2 separate regions of the Homo sapiens genome follow, and region 1 is linked to region 2. A link means that fine-mapping ties the variant in region 2 to the expression of a gene that starts in the linked region. Tissue or cell type: whole blood. Region 2 holds a variant in brackets; the other region holds the start of a gene. All regions are shown on one strand. Distances are from middle to middle.

Region 1 (5,305 bases), 33 kb before region 2:
AGGCAGGAAAGCGTGGACAGGCCACCAGGCCAGGCACCTGCTGTGCAGGGCCTATCCCAGTGGGGCCTCAGGGTAGCTCTGCTGGTGAGCAGGGCTGAGCAGCTTCCAGTGGGTAAAGTAAGCAGCTGGAGGTCTCTTGTCAGTGGGTGCATGCTGGCTCTCCCAGGTGGGGGATGAGGCAACTCACCATCAATATAAACTCCAGACGCCTGGCAGACTGGGGCCTTGGGTTGGGGGTGGGCTTAGTGGCCTCATCAGAAGAGCGGAAGGTCTGCCCCACAAGTCTGGCCTCCGAGTACTGTTCCTCATATTCTTCTGAAAAATAGCACAGTGGAGACACACACTCTAGGGTGCCATGGCCGAGCGCTGGGCCGGGGAAGGGCCATGAGCCAGGACTCCTGCTCTAGCTGCCAGGCCTGACTTGCATTTTCTTTAGGCTATTTCCAGGTGTTTGAGCCACTGGATTTGGAAATGGAAAAGTGCTTGCTTCCCAGGACCATGAGGATCGAGGAGAAGAGAAAGTCAATAAATTCATGCTGTGGTGGTTTGGGGACCAAGCCCTTATCTCAATGATCCCCACCTTGAGTGCTCAGTTACGAAAAGAGGCTCAGAATGCAGACACCTTTTGCTACTTTGGACTGCAAGTTCCTCTCTTTGAAGCCCTGCAGCTCTTAAGGTTTTCTGCGACCCTACCAAGGAAATGACCTGTGTGAAGCAAGAAGAGATTTACACCAGGAAGTCCAATCTGGAGTTCTTTCTTGGATGTCAAGAACTTTTACTTGAGCCTTTGTGGGCCGTGTTCCCTGCACCTTAGTCCCGCTGTAAGTGATGTCAGGTCTAGGAGGGCTAAGGTGAAGGAGAGGGAAGGAGGAGGTAACAGCATAAAAGAGGCAGAAGTTCAGCGGCATCATCAGTGAGTAAGGATGCACAAGATTTGAATAGGGTTGATTGAAGTGATGAATTTGATGAGAATACATGAAGAAAGTGAGAGTAGAGAAGGGACATTCATGCTGTATGTACACTGAACAAAGACTCAGAATCACAGAGATTTGGGGTTGCTCTTGGGGTTCTTTGGTCCAACGCCTCATTCTGTGCCCAGACTCCCTCCTCAGCAGCCCTTCTAGGTGTTTCTTCAGCCTCAGCGCACACACCTGCAGGGAAGGGGAGCTCCCTCCCTCCCAAGGCAGCTCATTTCTTCCACGGACAGTTGGGGCTGTCAGGTGTGTCAGAAAGTTCTTCCTTATCTGGAGGTGGAATGTGCCTCCTTCTGGGTTTCCACCCACTGGTCCTAATTCTGCCATGGTAGCAACACAGAGCACATCGACTCTTTTTCTGTGTGGCAAGTCCTTTGTTATCTGAACACAAGGCTCATGGTGTCCCTTGGCATCTTGCTTTTCCAAGGTCACCACTGCCCTGGTAGGGGGTGGGGGTTATGGCTGTCATCCTGTTGGTGGCCCATCAGCAGTTTTCTATTCGCCATTAGAGTTAACCTTTATTAGTATAGATAAAGGAGTGCTGACAAGACCTCTTTTCATGCTCAACATCCACTGAGCACCTCTTGGCAGGTGGGGAGGGAATCCAGCCTTGTGCCAGGTGCTTCTGGAAACCTAAGGGTAGCAAGATGTGATTCTTTACATCGAGAAGCTCAGGCTTGGTTAGGGGGGACAAAATAGGTGACCTCTGGGTGCTGTGTATTGGGCTTACTTTGGTGAGGCAGTAGCTATCCAGGGGTTATTGCAAGAGCAGAGTGAGTGAAGCCCAGAGTGGGAGATCCTGCAGATGCCCCCTTTGTCTTCTGGTGCCAGGATCCCAAAGGCATGGGCGATGTGGCAAGAGGGGGGCTGGAGGGAATGTAGGCCCACATTGTGGGAGTCTCCCACCCAGCTCTCGGTGAATGGCATAACTTATGGCCCTGCCTCAGTCTCTGTCCTTGTTTCCCCATGGGCTACTGAGCTGAAAAAAGGGGCTGGGGATGGGGGGAAACAGCCCTGGAAATAGCCTCTTTCAGAATCATTAGGCTGAAAGGTGAAAGCTGGAAACTGCTTTGTCGATTGTTTTTAAACTCTCTGTCTTTATCTTGCTGGTCCCTGTCCTCTTTCTTCTTTGCCTCCCTCCTGCCGCTGCGCATCTCGCTTCTGGGCTCCGGCCGCAGCCCCCCTCCCTCTCGGTACCTTGCAACAGGCTCTGGAGATTGAGCTGCGCCTCCCGAAGCAGCTCCTCTACACTCGGGGGCCTGCCCGAGGAGAGGAACACGTTCACTGGCTGTCGCCATGACGACCTCGAGTGGGCAGTCGCTGTCGCATTTTCCCGACCCGAGTTAGCTGCAGCTAGGGAAGGAGAGAGTCAGTGAGAGGCGCAGGCGAGCTGGAGGGGAGCGGCGCGCGGCGGCCAGTGGGCGCCCGCGGTTCCCCAAGGCCCGCCCCTGCGTGGGGTGGGGGGAGTGCGAGGCTGCGCTTAAAAGGCGGGGAATCGCCGGCCGCAAGATTTTTCCTCGACAGATCCTGCCGCAGTCCGCTCCCTCCCGCTCCGCTCGCCCCTGCCCGCCCGCCCGCCCGGTCGCGCGGTCGCCGCCGCCACCGTGTCGCCCGCATCCTCCGCCTGGCGCCTCCGGGCCCCGTGCCTCCGCCCGCCCTCTCCGGCCCCGGCGACGAGGTAACGCGCCCTGGGCCGAGCCGCCGGGCCCTCCGCCCAGAGCGCCGCCCTCCGAGCTCGCCCCGGTGGGTGTGGCCCGGCCTGGCCCGTGCCCCGCTGCCGCACTTCGGTCCCTCCCGAGCCCCGCCGCCGCATTTCGGCCTCCTCCGGCCGCCCGTAGTTCCAGTTCCCCTTTCCCCACCACGGAGCCCCAGGGCCCCTGGGCTTGTCGAGATGTCTGAGGCGTCAGGAAATCTCAACAGCCTCCGCATGGCGAATGTGGCCCTGCGCGAAGAATTAAATGCCCTTCGCGGGGAGAATGCCAATTTGGGCCTCCAGCTCGGGAGAGCCCTGGCCGAGGTTAATTCCTTGCGGGGCAATGTCTCCAGCTACATCCGCTGGCCAGTACCCATAGTGCCCGTCCTTGCGGAGGAGAACTTGGAGTTCGCGCTCAGTGAGATCGAAGTCATTCCCGGGGGAGAACTGCCCTTCTTGTGCCGGCCTCCCCCACGCGCGGAGCCCGACTGTATCTCGGATGATCTTTTGATTAACGTGATCCAGGATCGCAGCACCCCCGACGGGCCCGCTGACCCCCCTCTGCTGCCCATCCCGCCCCCGCCGGCGCTGCCTCCGCCCGCGTCAAAGGAACCGCCCCCGCAACCCCCTCTGGCACCGCTGGAGCGGCCTGAGATAGAGCCCTTTTCAGGAGACCCAGTCTACCTGGCTGAATTCCTGATGCAGCTAGAGACCTTCATAGCCGACCATGAGGTTCATTTCCCCGGGGGCGCCGAGCGGGTGGCCTTTCTGATCTCCTTTTTCACTGGCGAAGCCAAGGACTGGGCCATCTCGGTCACCCAGGAAGGAAGCCCCTTGCATGCCAACTTCCCGCGCTTCCTGGATGAAATCCGTAAGGAATTCTGTGGCCCCATCCCCCCACGTGTGGCTAAAAAGGCCATTCGCAAGCTCAAGCAGGGCCACTGTACCCTCGGCAGCTATGCAGATGCTTTTCAGTTCCTGGCCCAATTCTTGTCTTGGGATGACTGCCGCCTCCAAAACCAATTCCTCAAAGGCCTGTCGGAATTCTTCCGCAAAGAGCTCTTATGGTCAACAGAAATGGCCGACCTGGATGAGCTGATTCTCGAATGTGTGGAGATAGAAAGAAAAGTGCGCGTTCCCAAGCCTATCCCGCTCCCTGGAGTTCGAAATATCATCTTCCCTTTTGCTCCGAGTCCCAATGAGGAAGAAAGTGAAGATGAAGAGTACTACAGTGAAGATGAAGACCAAGAGGCACGCAGGCACAGGCTTCACTCCAAGGACCAGAGGAAGCGCATGAGGGCTTTTCAGCAAGAGATGAAGGAGAAGGAGGAGGAGGAGATGAAGAAGGAGGAAGAAATGAAGAAGAAGGAAGAGAAGGAGGAGGAGGAGGAAGAGGAAATGAAACAGAAAGAGGAGGAGGAGGAGATAAGGAACAAGAATGAGGAGGAAGGAGAGAGTAAGGATGAAGAAGATGAAGATGAGGATGGGGGCCAGAAACCAGAAGGAGAGCCACAGCAGGATCCAGGGACTGAGGAGACCTATGGTGAGGTGGAGGAGGAGCCACTGGATGAGGCCCAAGATGATGACCTAGATGAGCTGATGGAGATGGAGCCGACCTTTGTTCACGCGTCATCCCAGACTTCTGGCCCCACAAGTGGTTACCACGCCGAAAACTTCCTGGGTGCATCACCTCCCATAATACAGCCTAGCAGACGGAGGAACCAGAATCGAGTCCCACTTCTGGAAGGCCTTCCAGGCACCAATTCACCATTCTACAGCTCCCCCCAACTGATTCGCCGCACAGGTCGTTTAGGACAACGCCAAGTTCGAAGACGCCCCCCTGTGCTTTTCCGCCTCACTCCGAGACAGGGGGGCCACCGAGCTGCTCGTGGCCGAATTCGAGTTTGAGTGCTGGGGCCAGATGGCCACCCAGAACACACCCTTCTTTTGCATCCCCCGCCCCTGCTATTGCTGCCATACCTGCCCCATTTGCTGACCAGGACTTCAGGGAGTTTCAGACCTGCAGAACCTGAAGAAGACCTGCAGAATTCCAGACCATCTTGCAACCGTGACCAGAGAGCGACGTGTGCCCAACCAGGGCCACCTGGGAAAGGAGGGATCAGCAATAGCTGCCCTCTTGGCATGTACTCTGCTCAGTCCGGCCACGAGCTGGAGAGCAAGTTTCTGGGCCTGTTCCCATAAATGAACTGGTCACCCTCTTGTATTTCCCCTCTGGTTGTTCCTAACCCTCACCTCTCCTGCGTTTCTTCACCCTATGTTCTACAGTTTTATTCTCTGACTGACCCACCAGGACTTCACCCAATGCCTCACTGATCTGCCCCAATGAGCAAGAGGACAGGCTACCCTGAACTCCTAAAGCCACTGAGGCCAGTTGCTAGATATAATCGATGGTGAGCAGGATGGTATCCAGAAATGTCCCTAGAATCCTACACTCATTTCATGCCACACCTCCAGCAGAGGGCCTGGAAGAGGACCCGACATCTAGCCCAGTGAGAGTGTGCAAAGCCACATGTCAAATGGACAACTTGACGGAGATTTGCCCTTGACTGACTGTGCAGGCTGGTTCCACTTACAGCACTTGAGTTTACCTTTGCACAGATTCCTGTATCAGGGCTCT
Region 2 (5,372 bases):
CAATGTGGGTTCTTCACACCACACCCTCCCCAACCACAGTGGTAGGGATTTCCTCAGAGCCCCGTTGCCACACACTCTGCTTTTGAAAAAAAAAAAAAAAAGGAAACAGGCATTGGGTTTTGAGTGTGATGAGACGCTGTGAACAGAGATGCCTCTGAAAGCAAAGAAAGGGGAACCTGTGACAGACCTCAGATAATCACCTCGTGAGCACTCAGGCTCTTTCTATATCTCTGTGGCCATGCTACGGCTTGTGGAAAGGCCAGGGCCATTTGTACAGCAATATGCCACATAATGGCATGTAAGTTAACACAGCAGTCCCCAACCTTTTTGGCACTAGGGACTGGTTTTGTGGAAGACAATTTCTCCACGGACTTGGGTGGGGGCATGGATTCAGGATGAAACTGTTCCACCTCAGATCATCAGGCATTAGTTAGATTCTTATAAGGAGCAAGTAATTGAGATCCCTCACATGCACAGCTCACAGTAGGGTTCCTGCTCCTATGAGAATCTAATGCCGCTGCTGATCTGACAGGAGGTGGAGCTCAGGCGGTAATGCTCGCCCGCCTGCCACTCACCTCCTGCTGTGTGACCCAGTTCTTAACAGGTCATGGACTGGTACGGGTCCATGGCCCAGGGGTTGAGGACCCCTGCTTAATGGACTGCATATATGACAACTGCATATATGACAGTGGCCCCATTAGATGATACCATAGTTTTGCTCTATCTTTTCTAGGTTTAGTTATGTTTAGATACACAGATAAGTACCATCGTGTTACAACTGCCTGTAGTATTCAGCACAGTCACGTGCTGTATGGGTTTGTAGCCTTGGAGCCATAGGCTGTACCATATAGCCTAGGTGTGCAGCAGGCTACACTATCTAGGTCTGTGTAAGTACACTCTATGATGTTTGCACAATGAGGAAATCACCTAATGACGCATTTCTCTCGTAGCGTATCCCCATTGTGAAGCGAGGCCTGACTGTACTTGGCTCGGCTGTTCTGGTCTGCACTCAACCAGCATACGTTGAATTTATTGGAGTCCACAAACCAAGACCCTGAGAAGCTTCATGAGTTGCCTTGAGTGGTGAAGTTGAGGATTTTGTCCTCAATGTCTGACCTTCTAATCCATTCCTACCAACCACAGAGACACACAGCTCAGGTGACATTTTGAATCTCTCTGCCTGCTCAACTTCCACTGTTCAATACGGTAGCCAGAAGCCACATGTGGCTCTTAAGCTCTTGAAATTGGCAGTCTGAACTGAAATGTGCTGGATGTGTAAAACATACACCAGATTTCAAAGACTGAATATGAAACAAAGAATGTAAAGTATCCCATTAATAATTTTTAATATTTGATTACATTGTAAGACACTATTTTTGATATATTGGAGTAAATTAAATATATTATTAAAATTAATTTCACCTTTTTCTTTTTACTTTTTAAATGTGGCTACTAGAAATGGGGATACTGGTGGCCGGCGTGGCGGCTCACGCCTGCAATCCCAGCACTTTGGGAGGCTGAGGTGGGTGGATCATGCGGTCAGGAGTTTGAGACCAGCCTGACCAATATGGTGAAATCCCATCTCTACTAAAAATACAAATAAAAAATTAGCCAGGTGTGGTGGTGGGGGCCTGTAATCCCAGCTACTCAGGAGGCTGAGGCAGGAGAATTGCTTGAACCCGGGAGGCAGAGGTTGCAGTGAGCCGAGAATGCACCACTGCACTCCAGCCTGGGTGACAGAGTGAGACTCCGTCTCAAAAAAAAAAAAAAAAAAAAAATTCCTACACAAGGGGATACTGGTGCCAAAATTGGCAAATAGATGAATGAAATAAAATAGTTCAAAACAAACTTATGTATATATGAGCATTTAGGATATAATAAAGGTGGCATTTCAAATCAGCTGGGGAGGGGAATGTAGCTACTAAGACAAAATTCAAAATTCCATAAGTGGCTGGCATTTGTGGCCCACATTATATTTCTATTGGATAGTGTGGTGCTAGACTTTCTATTTTACCTAAATGTCCATTAACAAGGGATGGGTTCCACACATCATGGTGCATCTACACAAGGGGATGATATGCAGCCATTAAGAAGAATGAAGGATATCTCTTTGAGTAGAAACTAGAAAACTGCAGAGTTATTGGTAAGTTGAAAAAAATGGGCAAGGAATGGGCCAGTATGTATTGTATGATCTCATTTGTGTATCAAAAGCACACAGATGCTTATATATGCACGGAATAAGTTTGCAAGGACACACAAGTAACTGTTATTCTAGATGATTTTGACATGTATGTTTCACTTGAAACTCTCCAGTACTATTTGAAATTTTAACAACAAACGTGTCATTTTACAATAACAAACCATTAAATATATTTATTTTCATATATTTAAAAATAACATATAATGGTTTACGTAACATAAAACTATTAAAATAAAAAATAAATAAAATAAAATTTTAAAAATCAGAGTTTCTATTATTCAATTCATAGCTTTATTTCTATTCCTCCACTTGTAAACACCCCTTTCAACTTCTTCTCTCTTTCTTTTTTTTTTTTTTTTGAG[A/G]CGGAGTCTTGCTCTGTCACCCAGGCTGGGGTGCAGTGGCGCAATCTTCGCTCACTGCAAGCTCCGTCTCCCGGGTTCACGCCATTCTCCTGCCTCAGCCAGCTGAGTAGCTGGGACTACAGGCGCCCGCCACCACGCCCGGCTAATTTTTTTGTATTTTTAGTAGAGACGGGGTTTCACCGTGTTAGCCAGGATGGTCTCGGTCTCCTGACCTCGTGATCCACCCGTCTCGGCTTCCCAAAGTGCTGGGATTACAGGCGTGAGCCACCGCGCCCGGCCAACTTCCTCTTTCTTATTCCTCCCTTTCTGTCCTATTCTTTCCAAACCTTCTCTTTCCTCTCTCCTTCAAAACCCACAAGGGTCTATGAATGAGGAGCCATTCCACTTCTGTTGGCTCCCCTTGCTCAACTGCTGCCTCTGTCTTCCCGCCAAGGAAGAGCCTGAGGAAGGGCACCATGTTGGTTGGGTACTGCTCGATTCCAGACACAATAATCAAAGATGGCCGCTGTGGAGAAAGAGACCTACCTAGTGGAAATACATCCTACCATTTCTTCCTAGCAATTTTGCCACATTCATGTTAAGAGAGGGCTACACAGAAGAGAGGACAATAACTCAGTAAATTGTGTCTGTGTGTTTTTTTCTTTCCTGGTTCAAGGGTGGGTGGAGGCAGGGTAAATGCAGGAGGCACTGGAGAGAAGGTTTGGTCCATGTTTGGGAAACCAATTTAATTGCCACCTGCAGTTAAAAATCACTAAGAGGGTTTAAGTGTTTTGAAAAGAGAACTATAGCGGTTGGAGAAAGGAAAAAAGCTCTCCAGCTTCTGGAAAACAGGTATAACAAGAGATGTGTTTGCTCCAGGGCAGATGGGAACCTCAGTCCTTAGAGTTTAATTGAGAGAGGAAGAAAGACAAGAGGTCTCAGCAGACTGTCAAGCAGATAATAGCTTCCGAAGGGTGGGTCTGCAAGAACTGAGAAATGAAAGACCTGTTGATGTGTGTAGGGGACAAGTGGTGTGGGAAAATACCAAATTTTCTTTTACACTCCTTCTCAATGCAAATGGAATAAATTCTTTAGAATAAAGAAGGGTTTTGAATGTCTGTTGGAACTTTTTTGTTTATCACAGAGAGACCTTCCCCTCCCCCTTCTCCCCCAAAAAGTTAAGAACCTGGCAGTGCAATCAGTAGCAGGAACACTGGACGGGGAGTCAGGAGACAGCCATGGTCCTGAATTTGCAGAATATGACAACAAATGATATATGTGAAATTCCCCTGGAAGCTGTAAAGCATAGTTAACTGCGGTTAAGTGTGGTTAACTGTTATGAAACTTAAGTTTGTCTGTGGCCCTTCCCATTTCTTCCCCTTTTGGGCCCTCTTCTCTTCCAACCTGTTGGTACAAAAACTACTGGGCCCAAGGTTTGAAAGGAATCCAATTCAAAGAACATATGTTGGTCCCAGAAGAGATCACCTAGACTGAAGAACGTTTTCAGCATCCTAAGTTAATGGTAACTCAGCTATTTTTAAAGTAATATCCCATTCAAAAATTGGAGGGCTAGGAAGAGATTTGTTAAATTATACAAAATTACAGCTGGGGAGGAGGAAAAAGTTCTAGTGTTCTATGCCATTGCAGGATGACTATAGTTAAAAATCACGTATCATTTCTAGGCATGGTGGCATGTGCTTGTAGTCCCAGCTACTCGGGAGGCTGAGGCAGGACGATCGCGTGAGCCCAGGAGTTTGAGTCCAGCCTGGGCAACACAGTGAGACCCAGTCTCTAAAAGAAGAAAGAATTAAAAAACCCAAATGATAATATATAGTTTCAAATAGCTAGAAGGAGGATACTGAATGTTCCCAACACAAAGAAATGATAAATGTTTGAGATAATGGGTATGCTAATTACCCTGATCTGATCACTATACATTATCTGTATACCCCATGTATATGTACAAATAATTACATTTGTCAATTTTAAAACAACTTAAAAATTGGAAGCAAACAATTTACCTTTAAGAGGAATTCTGCGTTCAACATAAAGCTAGAATGCCATATATTATCCTATACAATTTTTAAGTACTAAATGCTTTTTTCAGATTAAGTCTAGCAAGCTGATTTCTGGACTGAAGGACTGACATCATACTGCTCTACAGAGGCGAGATAAGGAGAAATGGACCCTCCATACATTGTACCTCACCAGCCTTGGGATTGGCTTTATGGGCTCCAGTGGCCCAAGTCCTGGGGACACAGTTAGCTAAAATATCTCCTTGCCTCTTCCTCACTCCCAAAAGTTAGTCCGTCACCAAGTTCCGTTGATTCTACTTACCAAATCTGTCCAGAATCTGGCCATTTCTTACCATCAGCACTGCCACCACCCTAGACCAAGCCACTATTGCAGGCAGAAGTCTCCTAAGTGGCCTCCCAGCCCCCTCTCCTGCCCTCTGGCTCTACGAAGCAGCCACAGTCAGCTTTTTAAAAGAGCAGCCCTACTGCATCTCCCTTCTGCTTGGACCTCGGATGAGGAGATCTTTGGCTAATATGTCTACCCCTGTGACCTGAAAGCTCAGGGTGCCAGCAGGAACCCTGTCTGTTTTGATGACCACTGTAATCTCAGGCCTGGCCTCATGCCTGGCATGTAGTAGACACTTATTTGTTGAATGAAGGAATGGATTTTAGCAGTGCACATTTGTACAGTGCTTTAAAGGTAACAAAAACTTCATTTGATGCTCAGAATAACCCTGTCATAACCCTGTGTTATTGCTCTCATTTTGCAGATGAGGAAATTGAGGCTCAGAGCATTGCCTATGTTGGCAGAGTTAA

Evidence for each region. PIP is the estimated chance that this variant, and not a neighbour inherited with it, causes the effect.
Region 1: RTL5 starts here. The variant in region 2 is the best candidate, but not a certain one, in a credible set for the expression of RTL5 in whole blood (TOPMed, PIP 0.79).

Annotation. Positions count from the first base shown.
Region 1 is chrX:72,129,101-72,134,405 of GRCh38, reverse strand. RTL5 (retrotransposon Gag like 5) reads left to right here and starts at 2,491. Exons shown (of 1, transcript NM_001405151.1): 1 at 2,491-5,305. The coding sequence starts at 2,866. The coding sequence ends at 4,575. It overlaps NHSL2 (NHS like 2), which reads right to left. Exons shown (of 8, transcript NM_001013627.3): 2 at 2,172-2,327; 3 at 188-315. RefSeq lists silencers at 2,411-2,470, 2,631-2,700.
Region 2 is chrX:72,095,768-72,101,139 of GRCh38, reverse strand. The region is part of intron 1 of NHSL2 (NHS like 2); the gene reads right to left. Among named protein-coding and RNA genes, the nearest start is that of RTL5, 33 kb to the left of the region's middle. RefSeq lists a silencer at 1-23. The variant A/G (reference allele first, on the strand shown) is at 2,563.